3 separate regions of the Homo sapiens genome follow, and regions 1 and 3 are each linked to region 2. Evidence: fine-mapped QTL for protein levels in blood plasma. A gene starts in region 2. Each other region holds a variant in brackets. All regions are shown on one strand. Distances are from middle to middle.

Evidence for each region. PIP is the posterior inclusion probability: the model's chance that the variant is causal. Protein levels are from antibody-based Olink assays in UK Biobank. Linkage for the fine-mapping came from a reference panel and not from the study's own genotypes, which makes the PIPs less certain.
Region 1: its variant is fine-mapped to the plasma level of the BCAT1 protein (UK Biobank, PIP above 0.99).
Region 3: its variant is fine-mapped to the plasma level of the BCAT1 protein (UK Biobank, PIP above 0.99). The variant lies in the coding sequence of BCAT1. If it changes the protein, the assay may bind it differently, which can mimic a change of level.

Annotation. Positions count from the first base shown.
Region 1 is chr12:24,810,103-24,820,943 of GRCh38, forward strand. It overlaps BCAT1 (branched chain amino acid transaminase 1), which reads right to left. Exons shown (of 11, transcript NM_005504.7): 11 at 1-7,947. The coding sequence ends at 7,906. BCAT1-AS1 (BCAT1 antisense RNA 1) reads left to right here and starts at 9,756. Exons shown (of 4, transcript XR_007063245.1): 1 at 9,756-9,845. The variant C/A (reference allele first, on the strand shown) is at 4,404.
Region 2 is chr12:24,947,502-24,958,066 of GRCh38, forward strand. BCAT1 (branched chain amino acid transaminase 1) reads right to left here and starts at 1,600. Exons shown (of 11, transcript NM_005504.7): 1 at 1,426-1,600. The coding sequence starts at 1,431. BCAT1-DT (BCAT1 divergent transcript) reads left to right here and starts at 1,662. Exons shown (of 3, transcript NR_199054.1): 1 at 1,662-1,829. RefSeq lists enhancers at 1,494-1,843, 1,964-2,053, 4,334-4,403, 4,784-4,853, 7,954-8,193.
Region 3 is chr12:24,826,528-24,837,368 of GRCh38, forward strand. It overlaps BCAT1 (branched chain amino acid transaminase 1), which reads right to left. Exons shown (of 11, transcript NM_005504.7): 8 at 9,984-10,069; 9 at 6,196-6,336; 10 at 3,296-3,370. BCAT1-AS1 (BCAT1 antisense RNA 1) reads left to right here. Exons shown (of 4, transcript XR_007063245.1): 3 at 4,174-4,262; 4 at 9,950-10,028. Among named protein-coding and RNA genes, the nearest start is that of BCAT1-AS1, 12 kb to the left of the region's middle. The variant C/T (reference allele first, on the strand shown) is at 6,279.

The DNA.
Region 1 (10,841 bases), 140 kb before region 2:
GAGAATGATCATGGGTTTTGATCAACACTGTCGCGATTGCATACAGACATAGCTAGAGAACAAGCCCAGTGATTATTCTACAGACCATAGGAAGCATCTACACCTCAGCTGTCGGCCGTTTGGTTACAGAAATGCGATCCTGCAAGTTGTCACCACTATACATAAAGTCAGGCTATGATAGCATATTTCACTTAAAAATAAATTATCACAATATAAGGCACATATGTATATGGAATCAGATTCATGATTTGAAAAATATGCTTAAATCACACTGAATCAGCTTAGCAGAAAAATAATTATAAAATTTGAAATATCCCCTTTTCTTTTTGTTTTGTACTAAATCAATGTAGAAAACACACTTTCTACCCTGAAGGAAACTGCTGTCTTATCTGATAAATTATATAAGCTCCAGTAAATGTATGTCATCACCCTCAGGAATGACAGGTCTCTCTTTCTCACGCTTGTGGGAATTGAGCGTTGACACTGTAAGAACACTTGACTAATAACCTTTGCCTAGACCTTCCAAACTCTGCGCGTAACTTCTTGAGAGATCTGAATAAAGGCCAATATTTTCACAGGTTGACAGGGTCTGGAGAAGTGGGTCACCGAGCACTCTGACATTTTTAAGTTCAGTTTACAGTAACTCTTTGCAAAACTTCAGGTTTTGCTGTACTTCAAATCATTTGGGCAAATTATAAGAAAATGAATACAAAATGTGTGACCCTTGGGTAATTCTGCACTTGGCTTTGTTCTCCCTTGGTGCTTTTGAGGACAATTTCTGCAAGGCCTGGTTTGGCTAAAAGGGACACTTCATTGAAGATCTCTAGGCCTTTTACTTTTTAAAGTGTCTTTTATTCTAAAGCTAGTTAACCACATATAGAAGTATGGTGTTTATCAGTGATGTAGATCCATTATGACAATGAATGGGAAGAGGTAATCTACTCCCCCCATTCTGTGCAAATCTCAAACGACAAAGCTAAGTTTTACTACAGATAAATCCATAACCAGGGGAAGGAAGAATTTTTAAATGCCCATTTTTTTCTTGTCCAAATGTTTGAAAAAGAAACATATTGAATCTCTATCCAGTGGTGTGGTTTCTGGTCTTTCTGGTGTGCTCAATTCTCTCTGTGTCATTTTGGTGTAAAAATACTATCCTACATTTACTTCCCTTGACCAGAAACCTTGAGACATCATAAAAATGTTAATTTAGCATTATTACTTCATGCATTCAACAATGCTGATTTCATGAAACCACACAAACAGGATTCTTTTGTTTTATTGATAACAGAAACTGTGCATAATTACAGATTTGATGAGGAATCTGCAAATAATAAAGAATGTGTCTATTGCCAGCAAAATACAATTATTCCATGCCCTCTCAACATACAAATATAGAGTTCTTCACACCAGATGGCTCTGGTGTAACAAAGCCATTTTAGATGTTTAATTGTGCTTCTACAAAACCTTCAGAGCATGAGGTAGTTTCCTTTACCTACGATATTTTCCACATTTCCATTATTACACTTTTAGTGAGCTAAAATCCTTTTAACATAGCCTGCGGATGATCTTTCACAAAAGCCAAGCCTCATTTACAAAGGGTTTATTTCTTTCTACTCAATTTTTCTTAAAAAGAATTTCAAGAATCACTACACAGCTAAGATATCTGAGACTTGCAATGGCTGGAGTCTATCAGTACAATAGTAATTGCAATCAGATTCAGATACAAGAGAACAGGTTCTAACAATTTCATAATTAAGTTGATATTCTGTTTCTATCTATAAGCTCACATTTAAAAACTACTTCCTCGAACTACTTATTTTTCCTCAGCCACAAGTAAGCGCAAATCCTTAAAAACAGTGGGTTGAGCCCCAGCTCCATGTATTAGGTAGCTAGGTATATTGTGGGATTATTCCTTGTTAAGTCACCCCAGGAAACATTTGCAGAATTTAGAAATGCATCCAGATTTGTGAGTTTATTTTTAAGACCTGACTAAAAATCTGCACTCTTCAAAAACTTATTGATGAAGTACAAATTGAGGCAGAAATTTACATTCCTTTCTTAACCCTGAGAATGAGTTTAATGATCATAGGAAACTAGTTTGAGGAAACTGCAATGTGTTATTGCACATTTTAGTTAAAAACTAATAGTCAACCAATTTCCAATTCAGTAAACCTTCCACCTATCAGGATAGGAGATAGTAAATAGTATCTCTAAGGGAAAAAAGTCACAATCTACTTCTTGTCTAAACTTATTATTTTATTTGGCCTCAAGAAGCTTCATGGATCTTAGAATAAAATGGTTGAAGAAATGACACAATAGATATTACTTACTATGCTATTATAAAATAAAGCCTAGTCCAAGTTGATAATAATCTAAAGTGGTTTCTATGTAACACAACCTTCAGATTATAACCTCAATAGTGTGACCTAATTCTAATATCTGATGAAGTGTTTGCTATATTTAGTCACTACCTAGTAGCATTATTTGTATTTAGCAACTACATTGAAAGCTGAAGAAGATCTCAATGCTTGACAGAATAAGGAAAAAGCTCCTTTGGATAACACAAAAATATGTTTTGTTTTTTTCCCCTCCTCTATCATTCCTTTCTTCTCTACCTCCACTTATTCTTCCTCTGATATCATCTTTCATTAAATTTTTCTCCAGAATCCAATAGTGAGCAACAGGAAACCTAGCCATTGTGATAGTGGATATGTAGAGAAAAGCCAGTGAAACTATATTTTAATTCATTCTTACACCACAGCCTACATCAATTCTTACCATCCCAACAGTAGATTACATAAACTGAACATCATGCAACTCAAGTTATACGTCTTGTTGATTGGGTCTATTGTAGAATGAAAAATACACTTTCAGACAGAATAAGATGACTTAAAACTTCAATACTTGTATCCAGCAGATTTGAAAGGGCACTTCAAATTTGTTCTTCTTTTTCTCCCCCATCACCCCCATTTCAATTTTTAAGACTGATTTCATGCCTTTATCATTTTGAAGCAAATATGTTTATATATGTCTGACCCCAGGAAATTATTTACCCACAAACACTACTATAACTACTATACTCTGTTGATATGTTTCATTATCAACCTCCCCAAATTAAACATCTGACAAGTCTTTTATATATGTATGCTGAAGAGAAAAAATAAATCACTTTCTTCCACCTTTGAATCTTTAAAAGGGGTTTGTGGTAATGATAAAAAATTTATCTCTTTCCACACATTTAAGACCTCATACTGTGCAAAATCATGGTTATATGAAAGTTATTTTCTGAATAGCTGGATCCATCACCTTCAAGCTAATACTTTAAACAGCATGGTTCATAATAGATATTTTCTAGAAAAATTCACTCTAGGATCATTTTCTTTGTTTATTTCCATCTAATCTGGCTTTGCTGAGAAAATCAGCAAGGATGCTGTAATCTGTGGTGTTAATTTATTAGGTGCACCATGATAACTCAACATTGTTTGAAAAGAATTCAGTCAACACATGTACTAGGTTGGTAGTAAATAGTAAAGAAAGAGAAGGTAATTCACACCAGATGAGGAATGGTGTGAACACTAACCTAAACACCAACCTTATTAAGTAGTTTTGCACTAGAAGAAAGGAAGGAATTAAAGAAGGATAAAGTTGCTTTAAAAATGAGATAAACTATTCATTGATTTCTTGATAAGAGATGTGTTCTGGCCTTCTTTGCTTATGATCTAACTATTCAGCTATCTAACTATGCTTTTATAGCTACAATCAGTTCAAGTAGTAGAATACAAACTCCATGAGGGTAATGTCTATATGCCATTGATTTCTTAAAACTAACTTCCTAATCTCTATTGTTGGTTATGTCAACATTTATCAAATGAACTATTAATAGAGTCTTCATCATCTTTGCCAAGTAATAGGTAATGCTCATTGAAAAGCTGGTACCCTTTGCCTCCTTTTGTGGGGAGATATCTGGAAAATAGCTGAACAAACTCTACATGTGGCGAAACAAAGTGACAGTTGTTATAAAATGTCTACTAAAATTACCTGCTAGCATTACTACGTATAACTGAAGTTTTTGCATATCCGCATAAGAAGAAATCCACATTACAAGGAAAAGTACTTTGATAATTTTAGAGTCAAGACATGAAATAAGGGATTTCTCTAACCCTTAACTCTTCTGCCGGCTTACTTGGTACCTCTGATGAATATTTATTGCTCTAAATGTTTTAGAAACTATCACTCTTTGAAAGTGAACAAACAATGTTTTCTGCTGAAAATTCATCTTTCCCAATCATAAGGGGAAACCAAATATGCAACTTGAAAAAAAAAAAGGAAACAGAATATAGTGACTGAGCACTGAGTGGGATTGAAGAAAATAAATGAGCTTATTTTGGCAGCTGCTTTCATAG[C/A]ACAATTCCCCAAAAGCAGAACTGAAACTGTAGCTTTAATAAAAAGCTCCAACAATTCTTTTGACTAAGATATACTCATTAATTGCCTCCAAGTGTTCAAGACTGCTTGGATTTGAGGCAAGCAAGACCACTTGCTTAGGTAAATTTTATGAAGCAACAAAACTAATATGGTGAAGAATTTTAACCCAAGGTGTAACTTAGGTTTCCCATGTCTTCAAGAGAGCTGACATTGCATGTTACCATCTAGCTGATGTTACGCTCTGCTTTCTTGCTACTGCCTGCCTCTGCCTCTGTTTGTTTTTTTTTTTTTTTTTTGTCTTACATTTTTTCTTACAGCAATCTTTTGAGAAAAGAATAGAGAATGTTTACCAGGTAGAAAAAACCTGATTCCTTAACAAGACTTCTCAGTCACTTGTTTCTCTTTCCCTTTCACTTTTCCTTTGTGCTTTTGAAAACAAAGGCTAAAGCAGGTGTTATAAATTTATTCATTCCTGTGCTAGAGAGCATGGAACACATCTCTGAAGTCAACTCTTCTTTTGGTGTATCACGAGTTGAATCCTTAATAAATGACTGCCACAAAGAAAATTTCTAACAGCAAATCTTTTTAGGAACTGCTCAGGTTTTGCCTTTGTCTTGACACTTCATTTTAAAATCTTGGTTTCTACTGATGTGTTTTCAAAAAAGCTGACAAGCTCGGTCTGAAATGTAGAAACTGAAAAAAGTGAAAGGAAGAGAACATGCAATATAAGTTAATCATTATCATTTTAAGTGCCACCAGTTCTGTTTATATTAATGCACTTGTGAATTGCTGAATCTCATTTGATCAACCCAATTAAACATTAAATAATTGCAGCCAATTATGCAAATATCAGCAACAATATTAATTTGTTGATCTTTTTGAGCAGATTAGCTTCACATGTTCCTAATGCTAGACCATCTTATGCCTTAAACGATCAATTAGTGTGACAATAACTAAGTCTTGAAGAATGGATAATTGCCTAGTTATAATGTGGCACTCTTGCTGTATTAATCCACTGCAATTAAACAAATAGTGCACAAGGAAAAAAGATGTGCAGATGTTCCTGTTAAATCTATTTAACAAGAAAGCGTCAAGGTCAATTTCCTGTCTTATTACTTAAATGACAATGGTGGATTGTGTTCTCCTTATCAGGAGACCTCCAGTTTTTAAACATCTATCCTTAGTTTTCACTGGGTCTGATGAAAAGGGCTTAAAAATGCTCTTGAGGTTTTATGAAAGAAATGATACAAACATAATGTTCTCTAACTTTCACAATGGACAAGTCTCGCCACAATAAATTTGGAGATGCAAAGTATAAAATGTGTTGATGGCAAATAAATAATTCTCATTTCTCATAGGAATAGAAATTTAGTTACTATGTACCACTAGACAGTTTAAATTACCTGCAACTTTTTCCTAGACTACTATATGAAGAATGAGGTCAAAGGAGTTAGCCAAGGCGAAAGCACACCCTTAGAATGTTGCTCGGGGTACACAGTGCGCAGGCGACAGTCAAGAGCACCTCAGGCCTGAAAAGAACAGCTTCTCCCAAGATTTCAGATCACCAATTAAAAGCCCCCTAAAAGATATTTTTATCATTCCTTTTCATCTTATATTTCTCAATTTTCATTTTACTATCCCTGTCTATAAAAGACCCTATGGCTAAAAGTTTTGGAAAAGAATCAAAGCCCATTTTCTATGTGTTGCTAAATGCCTCAAGGAAATTTTTCCAATGCATCAAACTTTTAGAATCCTTTTTATTTTCCTTCTCTGAAAAGAGAATAAAATATGTTCAGCAAGAAGGAAGTTATGAGGACTGAGGGAAACCAAAATACAATGTCTGAGAGTTGACCTTCCAAGGAAAAATGTTTTCTGTCAAGATTTGACTTTCCTTAGATAAACCACAAAGGATACAATTTTAACTCACAGCTCCTAAACAAGGAAAATATCACCCATAGTAGCTCTCCCTGCATCCTAACCACTTGCTCATCAAATCTCCATTCAAAGAAAAGAGCACCTGCAAAAACAGAGTATAAAAATCAGAGTATGCCTCTTTGTTTTCTACCAAAAAAAAAAAAAAAAGATTTATTTCTGCAATTAACACTTGACATAAAACATTTGTCATTTCCATTTGGTTGGTATGATATCATGACCTCTCTCTAGAGCAGTGGTCCCCAACATTTTTGGCACCAGGGACCAGTTTTGTGGAAGACAATTTTTCCACAGACTGCAGGGTGAAGGGTGGTTTCAGGATGAAACTGTTACACCTCAGGTCATCAAGCATTAGATTCTCATAAGGAGCGCATAGCCTAGATCCCTTGCATGCAGAGTTCACAATAGGATTTGTGCTCCTATGAGAATCTAATGCTGCCACTGAGCTGACAAGAGGTGGAGTTCAGGTGGTAATTCGAGTGATGGGAAGTAGCCATAAATACAGATGAAGCTCCTCAATGGCCCACCACTCACCTCTTCCTGCTGTGTGGCCCATGGCCTGGGGGTTGGGGTCCCCTGCTCTAGGGATATATCTTCAATTCCAAGATAATTCTAATACAATCAATATGAAGTGATTTCCTAAACTAACTATGCTTCAGAGTATCTCTAATGACTTAGTAGCTCATGGAAAATAAAGACAATATAAGGTAAATCTATACACTGTCAGAATCAATCACAAATTCTAATAAAGAGGTTTCATAATATAGAAACAAAGAAGGTACACTTCTATAGAAGCAAAATGTTCACTGATTCATTATAAAACCATTTACTGAGTACCTACTATATGTCAGCCATGGGGGATACAAAGATCTATAAGGCACAAGACCCTCAGTCTTGTAGTCGCCTGACAGCCAGCCAGCTACAACATAATGTGGAAAGGACAATGGTGGGAAATGCACTCAGGTCTTCCTAATGCACAGAGTATGCTCAGGCTGTGACATCAGGAAGAAAACAGATATTTACCTTAACACGGACTTGGAGGACCTTCAAAAAACAGTGATGGGAGGAAATCCAGTTTTAAAAGTCTTGATTTAAAAAAAAGAAAACACTTTCTGTGGATAAAGATAGGCTGCAGGAAATGTAACCTATGAAATTTTCTCAAATTAGCTTTCAAACACACACAAAAAATTGCATTTGTTTGAGGAGCAGAATGTAACTTATATTAAAGAATAAACTACTATTTAGTATCTGAGTGAAGTACAAAAGGAGGCACTAAAATCATTGAGGAAAATCCCATGTTATATGGCTTACATTAATGTTTTTCTAGGTAAGGTAAGGTAAGTTACTACTACCAAGTTATGAAACACCATTTGATGATTGCAATTCATTTTCTCTGGCATGAAGAAACAATCACTCTTGTAACACATTGATACTACAAACTACATTATGCACAGGTAGCCAAAGAAATCTATCACAATTCAAATGCAACAGTCTGTCCCAGTAGCATACAGTTGGTATCCTCTATTTTCCATTGTATCCTCTATTTTCCATTCAGGATAGCACAATTGTCCAGTCGCTCTCTTCTCTTCCATACTGCAACAAAAGCAAGAAAACGTGTTTCAGTACAGAAGCTAACAGGGCAGAAATAGCTTACAAACAAACTTAATACCGCCAAGGTTACACAAAAGGTTCGCTTCTGCTTTGAACAACATTTTCACATTAAACATGTTCACATTAAAAACTGGATTAGAGAGAAAGAGAGGAAAAGAGGGACACCATATAAAACATAAGATAAAAGCATACATAGGGAGTTTTTTAAAAACCAAATACCTGAAAAGAATTACAAATTTTACAATTATTGCTGAACTCAAATTCATAGCTGGTATAGGTCCTTTATCTATTTAGGTACATGCCTTTTCATTATCATTTCTCATTGAGTTAACTTGCTTAATGACTGTGACTTTTACTGTGAAAAAGTGATCCTCAAAGTGTATTCTCAGACCACTAGCATCAGCATCACCAGACAACAAGTTAAAAATGCAAATTCCCAGACCTCATCTCAGACTGAATCAGAATCTGGGGATGGGTTCCAGCAACCTGTGATTCAGCAAGCATCAAATGATTCCGACATGCACTAAAGAGTGTTTTATGCTCATAAACAAAAATATGAAGTTGACAAGTCCCATGGATTTTAACAGAGACTCTGTTCTCTAAATCAAAGTTGTTCATGCTGTGTTAGCATTTTTCTTATTTCTTCAAAAGTTATGTAACTGTATCATAGTCAGAATTTCATTCTTTGCATCAGCAAATACTTTGGTTTAAAAGCAAGCCTGAATTTTAATATTCAAAATGAAATTAAATGAAATAGAGATATTCCATACATCACAAATAGAAAGCTAGTTCTATATTCATTCATTCAATCAGTCAGTCATTCAACAAAAATGCCTGTGTTTATAATAAGTTCTCACTCTGTGAGCAATTAATGTAGGCCAATGTCATCATGCCAGGAGTTTTACAGGCTTATTACCTCATTTAATACCCACAGTAACTGTACATAGAAGGTACCATTATCAATCCATTTTATGAATGAGAAAACTGAATATTAGGGAGATTGAATAACTTGCTCAAGTTTGCAGTTAACAGATGGAAGAGCCCAGACCCTAACCAAGCTCTCTCTCACAGCAAATTCCATGTTCTTGACCACCACCAAGACTGCTCGCCATGTGTTCACCGAGCCTTGTGTATTGAGACTGACTTGGAACAGATCTTTCCAAGCCAGTGTATCAGGCCACTAAATCTGTCACTATGGGTTTGCCTAAATCACTCAGACTATGTCTATTTTCACACGAAATGGCTCTTCTAGTCCTAATTTAACTTTAGTTTAAATTAATATAAAACATCAGAATTTCTGAACTAGAAACAATGTTAATAACCATCTAAAAGGTAGGAGATGACTCAAATAAGTGGGGCTCTGGATTTTACTTCTTTACTTCAGAACAATCCTACTTTTATCCATTTTGTATATTGGGATTCCAGGAGTGATCTCTTTTGAAGAAAGTTCTGCTGCATAAAAATCAAGTGTAAGGAGCAATGAATTTTAATCCAAGCTTCTCATCTTACATATAAGGACACTAAGGCTCTAGGTCACCCTTAATTTTGACAAGCCCAGTTCTCTGCCTCTGTCTGATGTTCTTTCTCCTATATCACAATGTACATGTGCTGTGTTTGTCTTAAAGACCTCAGAGAGCAGAATCTATCCAAGTGGTAAAAATACTGGCAGCCAAGAATGGGTCTACCTACCACCTGGTAGTTTACATGCAAAGGGGAATAAAGGAAGCCAAATGACTGTAAGTTTCTTGCATAATCCACACCAGAAAGCATTGCCTACAGACTGTAACTGCCCGCTATTGACTCTGTTGCTTCATGATGAATGCTGGATGAAACATCTTCAAATTCTACCTGATTTATGTATGATGTCAACATGACTTAAGGTAAGGGCAAAATATGTGTTTTATTTTCCTTACTTGGATTCCCATTAATATATTAAACACTTTCACCATTAATAACAGTTCATTGGCATTTTAGCAGATCTACAGAACTGTGATTCATGACTACTGTCACTTCATCTTGAATTTCATCAGTTAAAGTAAATTTGCTTTCAATTAGTTGTTTTAGTTTTATAAATGATCAAAAATCAATTTTGATTACAATGACAGTCGTAGGCCACATATCACTCTGCGAACCTGCATAATATGCACTAAGCTTTACTCTTCTCATTCTGTAATTTATGCTTTTATGTAAAATCATAGCATTCTGAGAAGTGCCCAAGAAATGTGATATTACAGGTAATTCATAATGTCTAGAAGTAGGCATTTAGTAATCAGATTTTCCATTTGGCTGATGGATAATGCAATTTAATTTTTCAAGGGAAAATAATTCTAAGTAGAGATGGCAGATTTAAGCAGAAATAGAAATTATATTATTTCCTTAAGAGTAAGTAAGTATACATAGAGGGAGGGAAAAGAGAAAACATGTCTTCATGGACTAGGATGTCATTATACTCTTGTCATTATACTCTTGTCATTGTCATTACAAAACAACAGTGCAGGCTCACACCTTCAATGTTTGGTAGGGCGGCTGTAAGTCACACTTACTTAGTTTTGTTCACTGGAATCAGAGATGGTGTCAAAGCAACGTGGCAAGTCAGGTCGAGCCTGCGGGATGGTATTTTGAGCCCATGTGGAAGACTTAATGAAATGTGCAGAATTTTAATCTTTTGCAAATTCCAGCGAGAACACTAAACTAAAACACGACTAATGACAAGTTCATTACCTCACATTCGAGGTACATAAGGCAGATAATTTCATACGGCTTTGCTAAATGCCTTTAAATTCCTGGCAAAACAAAAGCACAACCTGCATGTCATGCAGTCACTCTACGCAACGCCAATAAAACTATAGTCAGTGCTGCCTACCAGGTAGCAATCT
Region 2 (10,565 bases):
AGTGGAAAGATGTTTGAAATATTGTGATAAAACTAACTTAATGGAACCTTCCATACTTCTTCGATCATACCTAGAATACAATCATTTCTTTCTTAATCTTAGGAAATATCAGGAAACAGAAAAGAGACTACTTGTAGATATCTTACCTAGTTCCCCATGTTATAAAAGTATCTTGTGGAAGGGACAGGGGTTTTTGGACCTACAAAAACGCGTAATTAACCACAACTGCACATGGACAGGAAAAAGCTGGAAAAGCAAGACTGTTCATTCTTAGTTTTCTCCTTTTACTTACTAAAGCTATAATCAACTAAAGTGTGTTTTTCATCTGAAATGAAACAAGCATGAGGAAGCCAGAAATAGAACCTCTAACTATAGAAGAAAAGTTGTGTGATCTCTGTTGAATACAAAAACGCATAGTTTCCACTCGGTTACTGTTTAATTGTAGTGAAAGTTTTTGTTTGGCAACAAAGGCGCTATTTACATATTATTTCTTCTAAGTGAAACTATGGTCTGGGATGGGTTGTAGATAAGAGCAGTTGAGAACCACGCTTCATCTCCCTCCTTAGAAACTCTGAAACGAGGCTTTATTCCTACCAGAAGTTCAGATTGCATTATGGTCATCTCAATTCCAAAATGTTAGATGGCAAGAATATCTGCCCATCCTTCACTTTCCTTGGAAAAAGTTGCTCTTCGGGTTTTATATGCGATTGCAGTTTTCCAGTGTGTGAAACTAGGAAAACAAAACACTCAACGGTGTACATCCCTACACCTAAATAGTCAGAAATAATAGGCAGCTAGGCTAATTATCCTTGATTAGCAAGATCAGAGCCATTAGGGTGCTCACTGGTTTAACAAATGAATGCCCTTAGGCGTCTATCATTTGTAACTCCTAGAAGCTTTAATTTCCACAAGAAACAAAATAAGAGGGGCCTTCTGCTTTTAACAGTGAAAAGATCGTTCTCCCTCCCCTCTCCACCCGGGTCAACTCTTCCAGCCGCTCCCTCCTGCATCACGAACACACGCTGCAGGAAAGCGCATTTACAGCCCGGGACATCCCCAGACCTCCTCTCCAAAATTCCCCACCTCCTGTGCATAGGAGAAACTGAGAGAAGCCCTCACTTCCTTTCCAAACTTCACAAGCAGGGGAGGGAGCTGTAGCAGACTTTCACCTCCGTTCCCAAAAGCGAATGTGAAAAAGTCCGAGAAGGCACGTCCTGCGAGTGGAGGTTAAACCGAAATCTGAACAGAATGCACGGTCCCCGCAAACTACGATTGATAAAGAAGATACTGAGACGTTTGCGGGGGATATAAGCCATGGTTGTCTCGCCTTCCTCCCCTCCCTGCCAACTATGTTTCTTGGAGAAATCGCCGGTTCGATTCACGCACACATTTTTGTAAAACACGGACAAAACCATAAGTAGTTACCTTCATTGTTCCGTCGGCCACGAGGGAAGCTCGAGCTGAGCGGAGGGCAGATCCCAAGGGTCGTAGCCCCTGGCCGTGTGGACCGGGTCTGCGGCTGCAGAGCGCGGTCCCGGCTGCAGCAAGACCTGGGGCAGTGCCCGAGGCGGCGGCGAGTACACGTGGCGGGCTGGATTGCAGACCGGCCCTCTCGCGGCGGAGACTCGCGACCTAGCGGATTGCATCAGCAGGAAGACACTAAGGCTGCTCCCCCAGGCCGCCCCCAGATGGTGGAGTCTCTCCCAGCCCGAAGATTCGGAGCCAGCGCCCAGACCCGAGCCTCACTCACTGCTCACTCCCGGGGTGCAGGGCAGAGGTGCCAGTGTTGCAAGCAAATGACACGGTTACCCCCGAATCAGCCACTGTGGGTGCGTATCCGAGTGTGGGGATGCCCGTGTAACATTTATATGGAGACGTCAAGGAGGAGGAAATAAACAGATCAGAGGTCAAATGTGATTGCCATTCCGTCATCACTGGCTCCTGCCCACCTCCCTACTGTCCCCAAAGTAACTTTGCTGCATGCTGAGAGGACCACGGCACAATCCTGCCCAAAAGTATACATGTATCCCCCGCGGCTACTTTAAATGTACTTTTGCAGTAGTCAAGAACATGTGCCTGGTTTGCCGATCTCTTTCCCAGAGTTCCTTAGTCACCCTCAAATATAACCATTTTTGCCAATTTATTATGTACATGGGGGAAAATTTTTAATCCTTTAATTTGAGCATATAAAATTCTTTATAATGTGAAATTGCCCAGTAGCCTAGTTGGTCCCCTGTAAGTTCCCTCCCCACATCTATACAAAGCTCCAGGATTGCTACTTTTCCATGTCCAGCGCCTAGGTCAGCCTCCATGACTGCTTAAGTGTGCTGCTGGTTGACCTCCGCTGCCTCTCTGTCAAGCTGGCAAACTCCTATTTTTGTAAATTTCAACCCAAGTCTTTGCTGTGGAAGTTGCTTCCAATGCCCTCAAACAGAACTGGGCCCTTGGTCTATGTGCTGCACTTTGTCCACATCCTTTCTCAAAATCAATTATTTTATTTTATCATTTTTTAATGGAGATGGGGTCTCACTAAATTGGCCAAGCTGGTCTTGAACTCCTGGCCTCAGCAATCCCCTCGCCTCCGCCTCCCAAATTGCTGGGATTACAGATGTGAGACTGTGCCCAGCTTCTTAATTTTACTTTAATTATTTGTTTGCACAGTTGTCACTTCAGTGGATTATGAGATTCGTAAGGGCAGATCCTTTGTCATATTTATCTCCCATACCAAGTGGCCTGCCGTGGAAGAGAGGGAGTGTTGAAAACAAATGTGTCAGTGCTTAATGACTGTTGGTCAGGTGAATGAATGGTTAAATTATGTGTTCAATAAATGTACTGAGTGATTTCTACATGCTAGGCTGGTATATAACAGTGGTTTGTAATCTGAAATGTCTCAAAATGGAGCCATTTATGACAAGGGTTTCAGCCTCCAGTGAAATTGCTGACCCCTCAAATTGATAAGCATATGTATGGTGGACTGAGGTGATAAGATAACACCTGCTGTGGCCTGGCACCATTGGCAAGAGAGTAAAGAGAGAGGCAGCTGAGATAATGGCTATGGGCACTTGCGGATGCTGTGAAAACCAAAAAGTAATGAAAACCTGAAAGTAACTGACCACAGCCAAAATGCTTGCAGAAGTTCTGCCCTGAGAAATCTGTATCTGTAAGCATTTAATCAGCCATTGAGTCCTTGTGAAACCTCCTGGCCCCCGTCAGTGAAAGCACAGCTAGATAGATTTGAACCTGACACTGACATGAGACAGGCAATGTGCAAAATGCTAGGGACTGAGTGGGAAACAACAAAAATGTTCTTACCCTCATTAAGCTCATATACTAGTGTGAGAAACAGAAAGTAAGCTTTAAATCAGGTAGCAAAATGTTTATCAACTGAGGAATGGCTAAATAAAACATGGTATCATCCATACAATGGAATATTATTATATTCTGCAATAAAAAGAAATGAAGTACTGATTACATGCAGTCACATGGATGAACCTTGAAAACTATGCAAAGTGAAAGAAGCGTCTCACAAATGACTACATATTATATGATTCCACTTATCTGAAATGTGCAGAACAGGAAAATCCATAGAGACAGAAAACACATAGTTGTTTTCAATCTGGGGACAGGGTGGAATGCAGAGTGAATGTTCATGGGCGTTGGATTTCTTTTTGAATTGATTAAAATGTTCTCAAATTAGATTGTGGTAATGGTTACACAACCCTGTGAACACACTAAAAACCACTGAATTATACCCTTTAAATAGGTGAATTGTATGTTATGTGAATTATATCTCAATAAAGATGTTACTCTATGGCCCGGCATGGTGGCTCACACCTGTAATCTCAGCACTTTGGGAGGCTGAGGCAGACAGATCACTTGAGGTCGGGAGTTCGAGACCAGCCTGGCCAACATGGTGAAACCCCGTCTCTACTAAAAATTAGCCGGGCGTGGTTGCGGGGTGCCTGTAATCCCAGCTACTCACAAGGCTGAGTCACAAGAATCGCTTGAACCTGGGAGGCAGAGAGGTTGCTGTGAGCCAAGATCATGCCACTGCATTCCAGCCTGGGCAATAGAGCAAGACTCAGTCTCAAAAAAAAAAAAAAAAAAAAAAAAACAGGTACCATGTGGTAAATTTTATGAGAAAGAGTAATAAGGGGATAGAGAGTGATGGGGTCATAGATATAAATGCATTAATAAGTTCTAGAGCAAGCCTGGCAATTACTCCTAGATCCAACGACCGCCCCTCGCCCCCCTCTCCCTCAATGCAGGATTTTTCTCAGTCCCTTTGCCAGTCAAGGACCTCTAGCCGGCAATGCCGGAGGCCTAGCTCGGGGCATACTACCTGCTGCAGGAGGCACCCCACGCAATTTGCCCGCCTGAGACAAGTTTGCCTTGCACATTGGTTCCTGAGTTCTTGCCCCATGCCCAAGAAAAATGAAGATGTGCTGACAATTGAAGAGTGAGCAAGGCGGGGAGTTTTACTGAGGGATGAAACAGCTTTCAGCAGAGAGGGAAGCGGGGGTGGTCCCCCTACCCGAAGGCAGGAAAGTCTCCTCCATGAGGCTGAGTCCTGGGGCTTTTTATCGGCTCAGAATAGGGGAGGGGCAGGCAAACAGGAACAGAAATTCTCACTCTGCGTCATGGATTTCATCCAGGACCAGCAGTCTGGTCTTTCAGCCTTCAGGCTGTTTTTGGCTTGAAGGTACAGTTTCACCTCCAACCCTGTTGCTGTTACCCCTACTTAAGGATTCTTTTGATGTTAGCAACAAAGGAAGAGAGAAGGTAGTATATATTTAAAAAAAAAAAAAAAAAAAGAGCTTGAAGGGAAGTGAGAAAGTTAGGGAATTAACATCCACAGAAGAATATGAGGGCCGGGCGTTCACGCCTATAATCCCAGCACTTTGGGACGTCAAAGCAGGAGTTCAAGACCAGCCTGGGCAACATAGCAAAAGCCAGTCTTTACAAAAAATGCAAAAATTAGCTGTTTGTGGTGGTATGTGCCTGCAGTCTAAGCTACTCCCAAGGCTGAGGTGGAAGGATCACTGGAGCCCAGGAGATCCAGGCTGCAGTGAGCTGTGATCACTTCATACTTCACTGCACTCCAGCCTGGGTGACAGAGTGAGACATCATCTCCAAAAAAAAAAAAAAAAAAAGAAAAAAAAAGAATATAAGAACAATCTAGCTATGTCTCTCCTCCCATTTCCCTTTAGTGTTGATAGAAGGGCCCCACAGTTCTCCCTCATTGTCAACTGTAAACTCCCAAAGCTTCTCTCCCAGACAACACACATGCTTTTCCCAAATGATGAGGCTCATGATCAACGAAGGTTGTTACTCTGACAGTGGCACTGTACTTCAAACAAGTCACAGTAAAAGATATTTAAGGAAAACTGGATCCAAACTGGATATATACCATATACCCATCTATGGGCAGTGTCTTTTACTGAAGAAGAGACAGCATTTCTAAGATTTCTAATAGACACTAATTTTGAGGTTGACTCCAGAGCGCCAGACAGTCCAGCTTCATTTTGTCCTCACTGTTATTAACAAAGGCTTTTATTGCCATCATTATGAAAAATATGTGCCAACTACCTGCAGAATGTCTTCCCTGTATCTTACTAAATTTTCTCTAGGAAAGCAGAAACTCACAAATATTCTCTGCCTTGAGTTATTAACAGTTCCTGGAATTTGAATAGGAGAGTTTACATAAGGCAATGATACTCTGTCTTAAAAGAGGAAAATCTACTCTAAAATTCTACTCTACACACTCAGAAAACAATGTCATTCTCTTTCTCTATTTCTCATAGTAAAAAATACTTCAAAATTGTACTGTTTTTATATTTCCTATAATACTTGCATTCATTGCCCATTACATACATGTGCACACACACATGCATACACACACAGACACACACCAAGTTCAATACTCGAAAATCATTTATACTGTACTTTTTGGGAAATTTCCCATGACAATTTTGACTCACTGGATTTATTTTTATCCTTGTTGTACACACTCTAGTACCTAATCCCCATGTAAAATTAGATTTACTGGGTTGGGCGCGGTGGCTTATGCCTGTAATCCCAGCACTTTGGGAGGCCGAGGTGGGCGGATCACGAGGTCAGGAGATCGAGACCATCCTGGCTAACACGGTGAAACCCAGTCTGTACTAAAAATACAAAAAATTAGCCAGGCTTGGTGGCAGGCACCTGTAGTCCCAGCTACCGGGAGGCTGAGGCAGGAGAATGGCTTGAACCCGGGAGGTGGAGCTTGCAGTGAGCCGAGATCGCACCACTGCACTCCAGCCTGGGCGACAGAGCAAGACTCCATCTCAAAAAAATAAAAATAAAAATAAATTAATTCCTATCTATTTTGAAAGGATATTGTAAAGTCTTCTTTCTGCTAGTTCTCTAGAACCTCTCAGGGTACTTTCCACCCTGACGCACAAAGCTATCCTCCTTCTCCTTGAAACTCCTCCCTTCCACGATAGGATTCTGAATCTCCTCCAGCCTCTCTGGCAGGTCCTTACACCTTATTTATGATCACCTCATGCCCTCTAAATATAGGCAAGGTGTTCATCCCACCTGTATCTGATCTTGAATCTCCTCTTTATACTCTGTCCTCTAGTGTCTCTACTATGACCTGTAGTCTGATAACTTTTAAAACTATACTAGATCTCTGGTTCATCTCTATTCTAACAAGCCCAATTAATCCAAATCCAAGCACATAATCTTCCCTTTTTAACCTGCTTCCCTCTCTCTGCTGATGTCATTAATGTGCTTCCAATTATCCAGCCTCCAAACTTTCATATAGCTCCTATCTTTATAGATAGTACTTAAAGCAAGAGAGAAAGATATGAGCCTCCCCCATCCCGTAATCACTAAGCCGTCCCAATTGTATCTCCACAAAATCTCTTAGTCATCCCCCTCAGTTCCCACTCTCACTGCCCTAGTTTGGTCATTCATTGTACTTTCCCTCTGGATTACTGTTATCCCTGCCTTTAATCTCTCCCTGCCCCAATCCACCCAACACACAGATGGCTAGTAATCTCCCTAGTCCTCCGTTCTGATTAGATTTTTTTCTCCTGTTCAAAATCATGCAACTTGCACTCAGATGCTCTGGTGAGAGCCTGACATGAGTACATGTTGTGTGCCTAAGCACACCTGAAATCTTCCATCATTGTTTCTGCACAAATGCTCCTTGGAATTTCTTTTCCTCCGACTTTGCTTGGCTAAATGATATCCAGTCTTGGAGATCCGTTTTAATTACTATTGCCCCATTTGCAGCCTTTCCTGAAGCACTCCTTGTTATAAACCAGTGATTCCCAATTAGGAGTGATTTTGTCCCCCTGGGGAGATTTGGCAATGTCTGAAGACATTTTTATTATAATACCTAGGGAAGTGGGGGAGATTTGCTACTGGCGCCTAATGGGTAGAGGCCAGGGATGCTGCCAGGCATCCTACAATGCACAGGACGAGCTCCCACAATAAAGAGTTATCTGAGCCAGGCGTGGTGGCTCACACCTGTAATTCCAACATTTTGGGAGGCCGAGGCGGGAGGATCACCTGAGGTCAGGAGTTCGAGACGAGCCTGACCAACATGGTGAAACCCCGTCCCTACTAAAAATACAAAAATTAGCTGGGCGTGGTGGCAGGCATCTGTAATCCCACCTACTTGGGAGGCTGAGGCAGAAGAATTGCTTGAACCCAGGAGGTGGAGGTTGCAGTGAGCCAAGATCATGCCCTTGCACTCCAGCCTGGGTGACAGAATGAGACTCTGTGTCGAAAAAAAAAAAAAAGTTATCTGGTCCTAAATGTCAATAGTGCCAAAGTTGAGAAACCCTGCTTACAGACCCACACCAACTTTTGTACTTGATATGGTTTGGCTGCATCCCTACCCAAATCTCATCTTGAGTTGTAGCTCCCATAATTGCCACATGTTGTGGGAGAAACCCAGTGGGAGATAATTGAATCATGGGGGTGGTTTCCCCCATACTGTTCTTGTGGCAGTGAGTAAGTCTCATGAGATCTGATGGTTTTATAAGGAAAAATCCCCTTCGCTTGGTTCTCACTCTCTCTTTGCCTGCTGCCATCCATGTTAAGATATGACTTGCTCCTCGTCTTCCGCCATTATTGTGAGGCCTCCCCAGCCATGTGAAACTGTGAGTCCATTAAATCTCATTCTTTTATAAAATTACCCAGTCTTGGGCATGTCTTTCTTAGCAGCATGAGAACAGACTAATACAATACTGTTTCTATAATTACTGGTGTATAAGTCTTAGCTACTCTTCTCTTGGATAAATTCTGTGAAAACACAGAACCATTTTCTTTGTAATGACCATGGTGTTAGCCTACTAACTACCTCTCAAGAGTCTGCCTTCTCAATCCTTCACAATCTCTTTTACCTCTTAACATCTCTTCAAATAGTGTTCTCCCTTAGGGTTTCATCCCATGTCCTTAATTTTTTTTCTTTTTTTTTTTGAGGCGTAGTCTCGCTCTTGTCCCCCAGGCTGGAGTGCGACGGCGCGATCTCCGCTCACTGCAAACTCCGCCTCCCAGTTTCAAGCCATTCTCCTGCCTCGCCACGCCCCGCCCCCTCCGCCCCCGCCCCGGGGAGCTGGGATTACAGGCGCCTGCCACCACGCCCAGCTAATTTTGTATTTTTAGTAGAGATGGGGTTTCACCATGTTGGCCAGACTAGTCTCGACTTCCTGACCTCAGGTGATCCACCCACGTCAGCCTCCCAAAGTGCTGGGATTACAGGCATGAGCCACCGCGCCCGGCTATTTTTTTTTTCTAATTCATTTTAAATCCTCTCCATAAGGAAATCCATCTACTCCTTGGCTAATACTCTTACTTATCTAGCAACGGGCCATTTTTTACCCAGGCGTGGTGGCTCACACCTATAATCCCAGCACTTTGTGGGGCCAAAGCAGGTGGATGGCTTGAGCCCAGGAGTTTGAGACCAGCCTGGCCAACATGGCGAAACCCCATCTCTACAAAAAATACAAAAATTAGCCAGGCGTGGTGATGCATGCCTGTAGTCCTAGCTATTCGGGGGACTGAAGTGTGAGAAGCACTTGAGCCTGGGAGGTTGAGTGAGACGTGATTGTACCACTGCACTCCAGCCCAGGAGACACAGAGAGACCCTGTCTCAAACAATAAAAATGAAAATAACAAAAATCCATTGTTCTTCTTTTTTCTTCTAATAGAGCCCTGGTTCTTTTTTCTATGGTGAGGATACAGAATATGCCTAGTCCTGGGGGATTAATAGTTAATCTAAGGCAGTGATGACAATCTCATTGTACTTTGCAATATATTTACTTTCCCATACTCTCTTGAGCTAGAGAAGATCAAATAATCAAGTTCGGATCAATGAGACTTAAGAGAAAGTCACCCGAGGAGCTTTTAAGGATTTCCCTTTTGATTAGGAAAACATAAATCAGGCAAGGAGAGCTTACTGGTGCCTCCTTCTTTTCCTTCTTCCTTTCCTCCCCCTACTCCCTCTTCTCCACCTCCACTTCCTCCTCCCTCTCTTTTTCTGCTTTCTGCCTTCTTCTTAATTTTATTTTAGTAAGTATGCTTAACAGCTCTATCCTCTTAACAGATGTTTTTTTTTCTTTTGAGACAGAGTTTTGCTCTTTTTGCCCAGGCTGCAATGGCGTGATCTTGGCTCACCGCAACCTCCGCCTCCCGGATTCAAGCGATTCTCCTGCCTCAGCCTCCCAAGTAGCTGGAATTACAGGCATGCGCCACCATCCCCAGCTAATTTTGTATTTTTTAGTAGAGACAGGGTTTCTCCATGTTGGCCAGGCTGGTCTTGAACTCCCAACCTCAGGTGATCCACCAGCCTCAGCTTCCCAAAGTGCTGGGATTACTGGGATTACAGGCGTGAGCCACCGCGCCCGAGGTTTTTGTTTTGTTTTGTTTTGTTTTTTCTTTAGACAAGGTCTTGCTCTGTCACCCAGGGTGGAGTGCAGTGTCGTGGCATGGCTCACTGCAGCCTTGAACTCCTGGGATCAAGTGATCCTTCAGCCCCAGCTTCCCAAGTAGCTAGGACTAAAGGCGTGCACCCCCACACTCAGCTAACTTTTGTATTTTTTGTGGAGACAGGGTCTTACTTTGTTGCCCAGGCTTGTCTTGAACTCCTGGGCTAAAGTGACCCTCCCACCTCAGGCTCGCTAAATGCTGGGATTATAGGTGTGAACCACCGTGCCTGGCCCCTCTTAACAGATTTTTAAGTGCACAATTCAGTACTGTTATTTATACGTACAATGTTATACAGCAGATCTCTAGAACTTACTCATCTTGCATAATAGAAATTTTATATCTGTTGCCATTGATTAGCAACATTTTCCCCTTCCCCCAGCCCTGGCAATCACAATTCTATTCTTTGTTTCTCACCCCATTCTCTTCTTGTTTTAAATGTTGTATACAGATAAATGTTTCAGAATGCTGCCACCAACCATCCTGCAACCATGAGTGGCAAGCCCAAGACCAAAAACCAAATATTGAGGATGGCAAAGAAAAAAGAAAGAGACTGGACTGTTGGGGACATCACTGAGCCACTT
Region 3 (10,841 bases), 120 kb before region 2:
TGGTTATTATAGTTTTATAATAAATTTTGAAGTAAGGTAGTGTGGTGATTCTAACTTTGTTCTTTTTGCTCAAGATTGCTTTGGCTATTTGGGGTCTTTTTAGCTCCATATACATTTTAGGATTGTTTTTTCTATTTCTGTGAAGAAAGTCATCAGTATTTTAATAGGGATTGCATTGAATCTGTAAATTGCTTTGTGTAGTATAGTCATTTTAACAAAATTAATTCTTCCAATCCATGAATATGGAATATCTTTCCACCTTTGTGTGTTTTCTTCAATTTTTTAAATCATAGTTTTATACTTTTCCTTGTATAGATCTCTCATGTCTTTGGTTAGATTGATTCCTAGGTATTTTATACTTTTTGTGGCTATTATAAATGGGATTGCTTTCTTGATTTCTTTTTCAGATTGTTCACTGTTAGCATATATAAATTCTACTGATTTTTATATGTTGATTTTATATCCTGCAACTTTACTGAATTCATTTATCAGTTCTACAGGTTTTTTGAGGGAGTCTTTAGGTTTTTCTAGGTGTAAGATAATGTCATCTGCTAAGAAAGCTAATTTAACTTCTTCTTTTCCAATTTGGATGCCCTTTATTTATTTTTCCTGCCTATTTGCCCTGGCCTCTAAACCTCTGTTTTGGAAAAAGGCTTTCATGTAATCTAGCCAGTTATGTATTTTTTGTTCTATTTGTGTTCTTTATTTGAGCAAAACTGTAATAATTTATTATTTTCAGATTTACTCAGGCAACCTTAAAAAAATTAAAATGCCTAAGCCATCCATGCAGAAATTTTTATTAGCTACTCTTCAAATTACTTGTAAGTGTTGCTGTGTACAAAGGTAGAAAACAACTCTGACTAAATTTTATTTCTTCCAATATTAAGATATTCCTTTACTTAGCTTACAGAAAATTCTCATAGAAAACCTTTGCTGGAGAGCAGAAGTATGGCAGCTCATTGATTAAAAAACCACAATCAAGGCCAGGGTGCGGTGGCTCATGCCTGTAATCTCAGCACTTTGGGAGGCTAAGGTGGGCAAATCACTTGAGGCTAGGAGTTTGAGACCAGCCTGGCCAACATGGCGAAACCTCGACTCTACTAAAAATACAAAAATTAGCCAGGCATGATGGTGCATGCCCATAATCCCTGCTGTGTGGGAGGCTGAGGCACAAGAATCACTTGAACCCAGGAGGCAGGGGTTGCAGTGAGCTGAGATTGCACCACTGCACCCCAGCCTGAGCAACAGAGTAAGACTCTGTCTCAAAAAAACAAACAGAAACAAAAACACACTTTCTTTCTTTTTAATACTGTAAATTTGGCAGAAAACTTGCTGAGTAAGTCTCTTTTAAAACTGCCTTTTAAACTCTCTTTTAAACTTTTATTTTTATTTTATTTCCCTTTTTTTAGAGGAAGGTTCTCACTATGTTGCCTAGGCTAGTCTTGAACACCTGGCCTCAAGCGATCCTCCTGTCTTGGCCTCCCATAGTGTTGGGATTATAGGTGTGAGCCACTGCACCCAGCCAGAAATGCCATTTTTATCACTACCCAAGGACCTCCATTGCTCTCTGGAGGCCTGTTGCATTCTCAGCCACCTTTAAGTTTCACTTAGTTTCATGACTTAATGCCATCCGACATCACTCAAATGATCAAACTTTATTTTACTTTTCAATGTAAGTCTCAGGCCCTCTTGGATATTTTTACTAATTGACAAGGATAGTAACTGGCTTCAACAAAGTCTTCTAACTTGTGAAATGCTTGCAAATTACAGGATAATCTCTTTTCTGAGTAGCCCAGTGTTATCTGGTATTTAGCATGCCTGCTTAACTGCCTGATGAGGCATTACTGTAGATTATTGCTCAGAAAAAAAATAGGCAAAACAAAGTTAGCAGTATGAAAAAATAGACGTGTATACTCTTTGATCCCAGATTTATCCTTAGGAAGTAATCGAGGATGTACTGTCCATACTAGTGAAAAAAAAATTGCCAACAACATAAATGTTCAATAATATAATTTTTTAAAAAAATTATGGTACATCAATATAATGGAATTCAATTAAACTTTATAAATGGTGTTGGAGAAAACTACTTATTGATATAAAAAAGCAAAGCATTTATTCAGTGAAAAAACATGTAACAAAATTATGTACAATATGATCCCATTTTGTTAGGAAAAAATAACTATCTAAAAGTATACTGGCTGGGCATGGTGGCTCACGGCTGTAATCCCAGCACTTTGGGAAGCCAAGGCGGGTGGATCACCTGAGGTCAAGAGTTCAAGACCAGCCTGGCCAACAGGGCAAAACCTCATCTCTACTAAAAATACAAAAATTAGCCGGGAACGGTGGCATGAGACCTGTAATCCCAGCTACTCGGGAGGCTGAGGCAGAAGAATCGCTTGAACCCAGGAGGTGGAGGTTGTAGTGAGCTGAGATCATGCCACTGTTCTCCAGCCTGGGTGACACAGCGAGACTTAGTCTCAAAAATAAATAAGTAAATAAATAAATAAATAAATAAATAAATAAATAAAGTATATAAATGCTTACAAAATATTGAAGGTTAAGACATCAAAAAATGGCAGGGCACAGTGGTTCATGCCTGTAATCCCAACAATTTAGGAGGCCAAGGCAGGTGGATTACCTTAGGTCAGGAGTTCAAGACCAGCCTGGCCAACATGGTGAAATCCCATCTCTACTAAAAACACAAAAATTAGCTGGGCATGGTGGCGCACACCTATAATCCCAGCTACTCGGGAGGCTGAGGTAGGAAAATTGCTTGAACCCGGGAGGCAGAGGTTGCAGTGAGCCAAGATCGTGCCATCGTACTCCAGCCTGGGCAACAAGAGTGAAACTCCAGCTCAAAAATAAAAAGACATAAAAAATTAACAGTGATTATATCTCAGTGTTGGAATCACATGCACTGTAATTTTCTTCCTGAAGTTGCTTCTACTTTCAAATTTTTTCTTCCTTTTTTTAACAAAAGTTATGTTATCCTTCTTAATGAGATTTTTAAATGTTACCAAAAATTACATCTATTTTTTAATGTTAAGTAATGTGGAGTCCTGAACAATATTTTCTTTCTTTTTTTAAAACATACATCTTCTTTCCCATTTCTGCTTTGCTCATGCCCACACATTGTGTTGGGAATATCTTCCTTAAATTTAACTTATTGATCTCAAATTGTATTATTTAATCCTCTTCATTGAAATATAATTTAGTTGTAAGCTCTGACAGAAATAAGGTGACATAAAAAAAAGAAAAGAAAAGGAAAGAAAAGAAAAGAAAAGAAAAGCTTTACCTGGATATCAGTTAATTTGCTCAAGATGCGGCTTGCCAGCTTAGGACCATTCTCCATAGTTGGAATGTGTATTGTCTACAAAAGAAAGGGAAATGAGATAATTTGAGGGTACTCATGTATATGGTGATAACAGATAAGACACTCAAGCAATTCTGCTATACTAAGGCAATTCCACTGAAGTTAAGGAATAGCACTAAAACCTACTGACTCTGAGTGCTAGCACCTTATGCCAAAGACTTTCATATCCAAAATTTGAATAAAAACTAGCCAATGACAGGTTATACATTGCCTACCTACCAATTAATTTTAGGGCATAACTGGTTTGTATACCAGCCTTCAGGATCATTTGAAGAACCAAGGAGGAGCTACAGTTACCTAAAATAGTGGCTAAACTTAAAGAACCCTACCTCTTCCAAGATTCTGAGAATCTGTAAGGATGAATGATTGTCTTCTACATATTAACCCTCTGGCTAATATGAGAACTCAAAGATATTTTGCCACAGTTTAATGCAAGTCATTCTGGGAGCATAAATTAAAGCAAGTCTATGACTTCATAAAAGGGGCTTCTATACCTATCTCTGGCCCAAGGTAAACTTCCAGGGGCCACTACCTCCACAATATTGGATAGCATGATTAAATGCATGGCTGAAAGAGATTTCATGCTTCTAATTTGTATCTGAGTCATGCCTACTCATGCCTTGCTGGCTTGCAGGTTTTGATAGTTTGATTTTAGGAGATAGTCTGTGCTCTCAAACACTTTTCATATTATACCCTTTAGTATAATATGATAATTATATATACTTACTTTTTGGCTGTAAATGCTTCCTAAGCCTGGATCATTAAAATTATGCTAAACTTTATAAACTTCTTATTTCTAGAAGTGAAATAATAATTCAACTTAAAAAAAATCTGGCCTAATGACAACTTCAGTGGATGGATCACATTACCTTGATGCATTCTTATCAATGTAAGTATTGACATGAAACAGAACAATTCTTCTCCCATGAAACAGTCTATCTGTTGATGCAATTATGTCAAGAGCAATCCCTTAAAAGCAAGTTCTAAAACCTCAACAAATGAAGCAGCCATTATTAAAGTCAGAGGAGTTGAGCAAAACTCCAATCAGCTGAGGGAAAATAACTCTAAAGTAAAATTTGAAAACCAGTGGAGTTTGCATTTACGGTTGACACTTGAACAACACGGGTTTGAACTACACAAGTTCACTTATACGTGGACTTTCTTCTGCCTCTGCCACTCCTAAAACAGCAAGACCAATCCCTCCTCCTCCTCCTCCTCCTCAGCCTACTCAACATGATGGACAATGAGGATGAAGACCTTTATGATGATCCACTTCCATGTAATGAATAGTAAATATATTTTCCCTTCCCCATGATTTTCGTAACTTACTTTATTGTAAGAATACATATATAACATACATAACATACAAAATATGTGCCAATCGACTGTTTTTGTTGTTGATAAGGCTTCCGGTGAACAGCAGGCTACTAGTAGTTAAGTTTTTGGGAAGTCAAAAGTTATATGTGGGCCGGGCATGGTGACTCACGCCTGTAATACCAGCACTTTGGGAGGTCAAGGCAGGTGAATCACTTGAACTCAAGAGTTTGAGACCAGCCTGTGAAACATCTTGAAACCCCGTCTCTACAAAAAATACTAAAATTAGCTGGGTGTGGTGGTGCACACCTGTGGTCCCAGCTACTTGGGAGACTGAGGTGAGAGGATCGCTTGAGCTTGGGAGGCGGAGGTTGCAGTGAGCCGAGATTGTGCCCCTGCACTCCAGTACAGGTGACAGAGAAAGACCCCGTTTAAAAAAACAAACAAACAAAAAAAGTTGTATGTGGATTTTTCAACTGCATGGGGGTTGACACCCCTAATCCCTGTGTTGTTCAAGGATCTGCTATAATATGAATAACTTAAGCCAGTTCACATTATAAGACTAATACTTACATGCCTTTAAGTTATAAAGTTAGATGCCAATGTTAATCATAAGTATTGGAGCTTTGTTATAAAGTGAAAAGCAAAACAATTTGACAAGAAAACAAAAGTATGGCACATATAAAATCAGACTAATTTACTAAGAGGAGAACATTTCTTCCAACCAAATCCTCAAATTCCTTTTGTAAGATTTTAGTAAATGCACCAGGTTTGCCAATGAATAATTCTTGTAAAGTGGTCTACTTACTATTAATGATAACAGCATTAATAGTAAAAAAAAATCAAGGGATTGACCACTCGAATGCATTTTCCATAACTATTTGCCATTCCTAATCCAGTGGTTTGGAAGTACTTTTGGTTAACCAGAAACTGAAATGTAACTACCTATAGAGCCTTCCCTAGTGAGCTGGTAGGAAGGAAGAGAGAAGAGTAGAAGACTGTCGGCATAGCTCCAATCCCGACATGTAGGTAAGACAGATCTTACACGTGTCCAAGGACAAAACTAACTTCCCACCATGTTTAAGCTTACATGAAATCACTGGAAACATAGTAGATATATGCTAATACAGTTTCATCTGGATAAACTGTCCCAGTTATTTTTTTTGTAGTGCCAAGTTAAAAAACAAAAACAACAACAAAAAAGACCTAGCATGGTGCGGTGGCGCACTCCTGTAATCCCAGCAACTCAGGAGGCTGAAGCAGAAGGATTGCGTGAGCCCAGGAGTTTGAGGCTGCAGTGAGCTATGATCACACCAGTGAATAGCCACTGCACTCCAGCCTGGGCAACACAGCGAGACTCCATCTCTTTAAAATAAAGAAAAACAACAACAACGACAAAACTTTTGCATCTTGGGTCTGGGTCCAGATACAATTTTATTCATACACTTAAATTAAATGTAATTTAATGTGATTGGAAATGATAGGAAATGAGGAAATACTTGTCGTACCTCGCCTTTGTACAGTATATCAGAAACTGGGCAAACAACACAGGCTGTACCAGAGCCAAACATCTCTCTCACTCTGTTCCCCT[C/T]CAGGGCTGTTGTCAAGTCATCCATGGTGAGGTATCTCTCTGACACCTTAAATTCACCCTGCATGGAATATAAAAAATAACAAGTATATTTTAAAGGAAAAGGCATGCAAAACAATTGCAATACTTACTGTTCTGCTTAACATTCTGATTGCACTTAGACAAGGTCACAATCATCCTTTAAGGGAAAGCTGGAAGTGGCACACCATCTTACTGGTGAACACATCGAGGTGTTAAGTAACCTACTTCAAGGTCACAGATTTATATATGAGATTATCAGAATATAAAATATAAGATTATCACCACAAGACACATGGTATACTTTAACATATGCCTTCTTTTTTGCCTTCTTATTTGTTAACTTGTATAAAGTCTCACAAAATTGATGCATCCCAAATGCTGCTTGATGCATGCTCCGTGTTAACAGTGTCTTAGGCCGGGCACGGTGGCTCATGCCTGTAATCTCTGCATTTGGGGAGGCTGAGGCAGGCAGATTACTTGAGGTCAGGAGTTTGAGACCAGCCTGGCCAACCTGGTAAAACCCTGTCTCTACTAAAAATACAAAAATTAGCCAGGCATGGTGGCGGGTGCCTGTAATCCCAGCTACTCAGGAGGCTGAGGCAGGAGAATCGCTTGAACTCAGGAGGCAGAGGTTGCAGTGAACCAAGATCACGTCACTGCAGTCCAGCCTGGGTGACGGAGTGAGACTCTGTCTCCAAAAACAAAACAAAACAAAAAAATCAGTGTCTTAAAACCTACTTTACCATAAAGGAGAACAATGTATTATATAATATTAATAATTATAGCTACCATTTATCAAGCACCCGCTATTATGCCAAGTTCTGTAATTTTAAGGGTGAGTACTATCATCCCCATTTTACAGATGAGGAAACTAAGGTTCAAGGAGGTTGAAGGGCATCTCCAGGGCCACAAAGGAAGTAAGTGACAGAAACTCAATTTGAACCCAGGTCTGATCTGATTGGCTCCAAATTTGGTACTCTTTCTACGTTTGTCTCTTTCTTTTTTTTTTTTTTTTAAGACAGGGTCTTGCCCTGTCACCCAGGCTGGAATGCAGTGGCATAATCTTGGCTCATTGCAGCCTCGACCTCCCAGGCCCAAGTGATCCTCCTGTCTCAGTCTCCTGAGCACCTGGGACTACAGGTGTATGCTGCCATGCCCAACTAGGTTTTATATTTTATATTTTATTTTGTAAAGATAGGGGTCTCCCTATGTTGCCCAGGCTGGGCTCATGTGATCCTCCCACCTCAGCCTCCCAAAGTGCCAAAGTGCTGGGATTATAGTTGTGAGCCACTGTGCACGGCTTACCTATATCTTTTATGGAATAAAGAACAGACTGAGTTCAAATATCTGAAATACTCATTATTTTTAAACGTTGAATGTATATTTGGACTTTATTTGAGAAATTGTATTGTATGTATTTTTTTTCCTAATATGACTAACAGTTGACTTTACAGTGACAATTCTCTTCCTTCTCTTTCAGTATCACATTCAGTTGATTTTCATCATGGAATTAGTGGTATAACCTCATTGACTTCTGCCAAAGTGTTTGAATATATTCTTTGCTCAAGGATAGGAAATGGGAAAAAGATCCTTTTAAGCTATGTGTTTAAACTATCTGTTTAATTCTTGTTCTTTTACCTCAGTGGTTCAAGTTCAAAGTTTGTCAACAAGTTATTTGAATAAAGGGCAATAAAAATAGAGAGGTTTAAAAAAATAAGATGAGTATTTTTTCTTAATTTATAAACCCACAAGAGATAAAAATGGAAATCAAAGCTCTTGGCAATATTCAAAATATTTGAATATTTAAAAGAAGAACTCATGCTGTAAGTAGATTTGGAAGAGCAGGAAAATATATCTGCAATAGAAATATGGCTCTTTGAAAGTTTCAATTTCTCTCAGTCTACAATTGCAATTATGTTGTTCAAAAGTAAATGAACTGCAGAAAATCAGGCAAATTAATTGAAAACAAGCTGAGTTCTGTGTCCTGAAAAAGAAAAGAAAAGAAAACTCTTTTGTAAATAAGCAGAATTGTTTTTGCTCTGCTCACCCTTACTTATCTTTGGACAATTTCCCCTATCTGGCAAATAGTGGTGACCCCCTACATGCCTCTTGGCATTTCACGTCTCATGTTTTAAAATAGCTTTTAAAATAAATTACAGCTATGAAGTCAAGAAAAAATTTCCTCCATAATAACCTATTTTTCATGCTAGCAAATCATTAGTGTGGGAAAGTATTTCCACTTGCAACTTGTCGTCGAACCTTCTGTACTTGGTTGATATTTTTCTTTAATAAAACAAAAATTACTGAGCTTCAAAAATATCTTTCCAATTGCAAACATATTTAGGACAGGGCAAGCTGTTTGAAAATTATACCAACGGTTTGTAAATGTCATGCCCAATGCGCCAGCCAGCATGTAGCAGTTGGGTCTTGTCTACTTCAGGGTTTTGTAGAATTATTTATAGCACATTTCATCTATTTTGAAAGTCTTTTCCAGAGAAACCATGCTGGTATGCTCCTAGATAACGTGTGTGTTTCTAAACATTTGTCCTATTACTACTAGTACTCTTTGACCACAGTAAGCTCAAAGCCTTTTCATGTTCTTTGGAGACCATTTTAACACCTGGGTCAAAAGTTCCATCCAAGAACCTTTACCAGACACCCAATTCATTCAATAATTTGTCTTGAATACATTACGTCATTTCCAAAACCAAACCTTTTTAAATTTTATTTTATTTATTTATTTATTTATTTATTTATTTATTTATTTATTTAATTTACTTTTAGAGACATGGTCTCACCCTGTATTCAGGCTGTAGTGCAGTGGCTTGATCATAGCTCACTGCGACCTTGACCTCCAGATCTTATGCCATCCTCCCACCTCAGCCCCTCCAAGTAGCTGGGACTACAGGCATGTACCACCATGTTCAGCTAATGTTTTTGATTTTTTTGTAGATTCGGGGTCTCACTATGTTGCCCAGGCTGGTCTCGAATTCCTGGGCTTAAGTGATCCTCCTGCCTTGGCCTCCCAAAATGCTAGAATTATAGGCATGAACCACTGCACCCGGTCCACCAAATTGTTTAATATGCTTGCCTGTGTCACACGAATTTGAAAGTCTACTGAAAACAACTTTACATTTGCTTGCATGTTCTGATTTTAAAATAGGCATGTATATGAATTTTGGAGGATGGGGGTAGGACAGAGAGAAAAAGAAGGCAGTCAAACCAATAATGTTATATTAGTAAACATTTATATGTCAGTGAAATTATTTCATTTCTACGGCAAGCATGGTTACACTGGTATAAATAAAGGAAAGGAAGAAGTATCATTGCCATTTGGAAGCAACACAGACTTGGGAAGTTAAGGAATGTCTGGATGGAAGCACATCAGGTATGAACCAGACAAAAGTTGGTGGGAGATACCTGGTAGACTGAGACTACTACTAGAATACTTCTCCACTATGACATCTTGCTAAACTGGTTTCTCTCTGCCCTTGCTATCAACAATACTTATTTTAATAGTCTTGCCAAGAAAGCCCTTCTAGAAGAATACTTTTCATTCACGTTAGAATTTAAAGATTAGATAACATTGGTTGGAACCACAGGATATTATTTCAACACTAGGCTGGGCTTATTTTGATTATTTTTTATTTCAGGCTTACAAAAGTTGTTCATATCAAAGGCACCCACCCACTGATGTGCCAGGTCCAGAATGCACCGCCTTGTCACTCCTGGAAGAATGATGCCATCTAGTGGAGGAGTTGCCAGTTCTTCTTCTGTCAATCAGAAATTGGGACATTTTCAAACTTTCACTACATTAGGCATGCCTTATTATCAATAGCCATTTTTTTAAAAAACCATCACAATTTTGCTAGCAACAAACATAAAGAAAATTTTACTGTTCTGCATGATCAAATTTCCCAAATCAGTTCACACTTCAGGTAGACCCTTATTTAAAAAAAGAAGAAAGAAGGAAGGAAGGAAAGAAGGAAGGAAGGAAAGAAGGAAGGAAGGAAGGAGAGAGAGAGAAAGAAAGGAAGGAAGGAAGGAAAGAGAAAGAGAAAGAAAGAAAGAAAGAAAAGAAAGAGAGAAAGAAAGAAAGAAAGAAAGAAAGAAAGAAAGAAAGAAAGAAAGAAAAGAGAAAGAAAGAAAGAGAGAGAGGGAGGGAGGGAGGAAGGAACGAAGGAAGGAAGAAAGAAAAAAGAAAGAAAGAAAGAAAAAAGAAAAGAAAAGAAAGAGAGAAGGAAAGAAAGAGAGAGGGAGGGAGGGAGGGAGAAAGGAAGGAAGAAAGAGAAGGAAGGGAGGAAGGGGGGAGGGAAGGAAGGAAAGTTATCTAATCATCTTCAGTTTACCCTTAACCAGTAAAATAATGAGATGGTTTTCCACCAACAAACAGTAAGAGTTATTGCATGGTCTTAAGAGGAATATTCTGAAGTGAAAATTTACCTTAGCAGATGAAAGGTGGTTACTAATTAGAATAATGTAGATAGGGTCTTACTCAGAAAAACTGGTCATTACCAAACCTTCTAAGAATGCTATGGAGGAGGC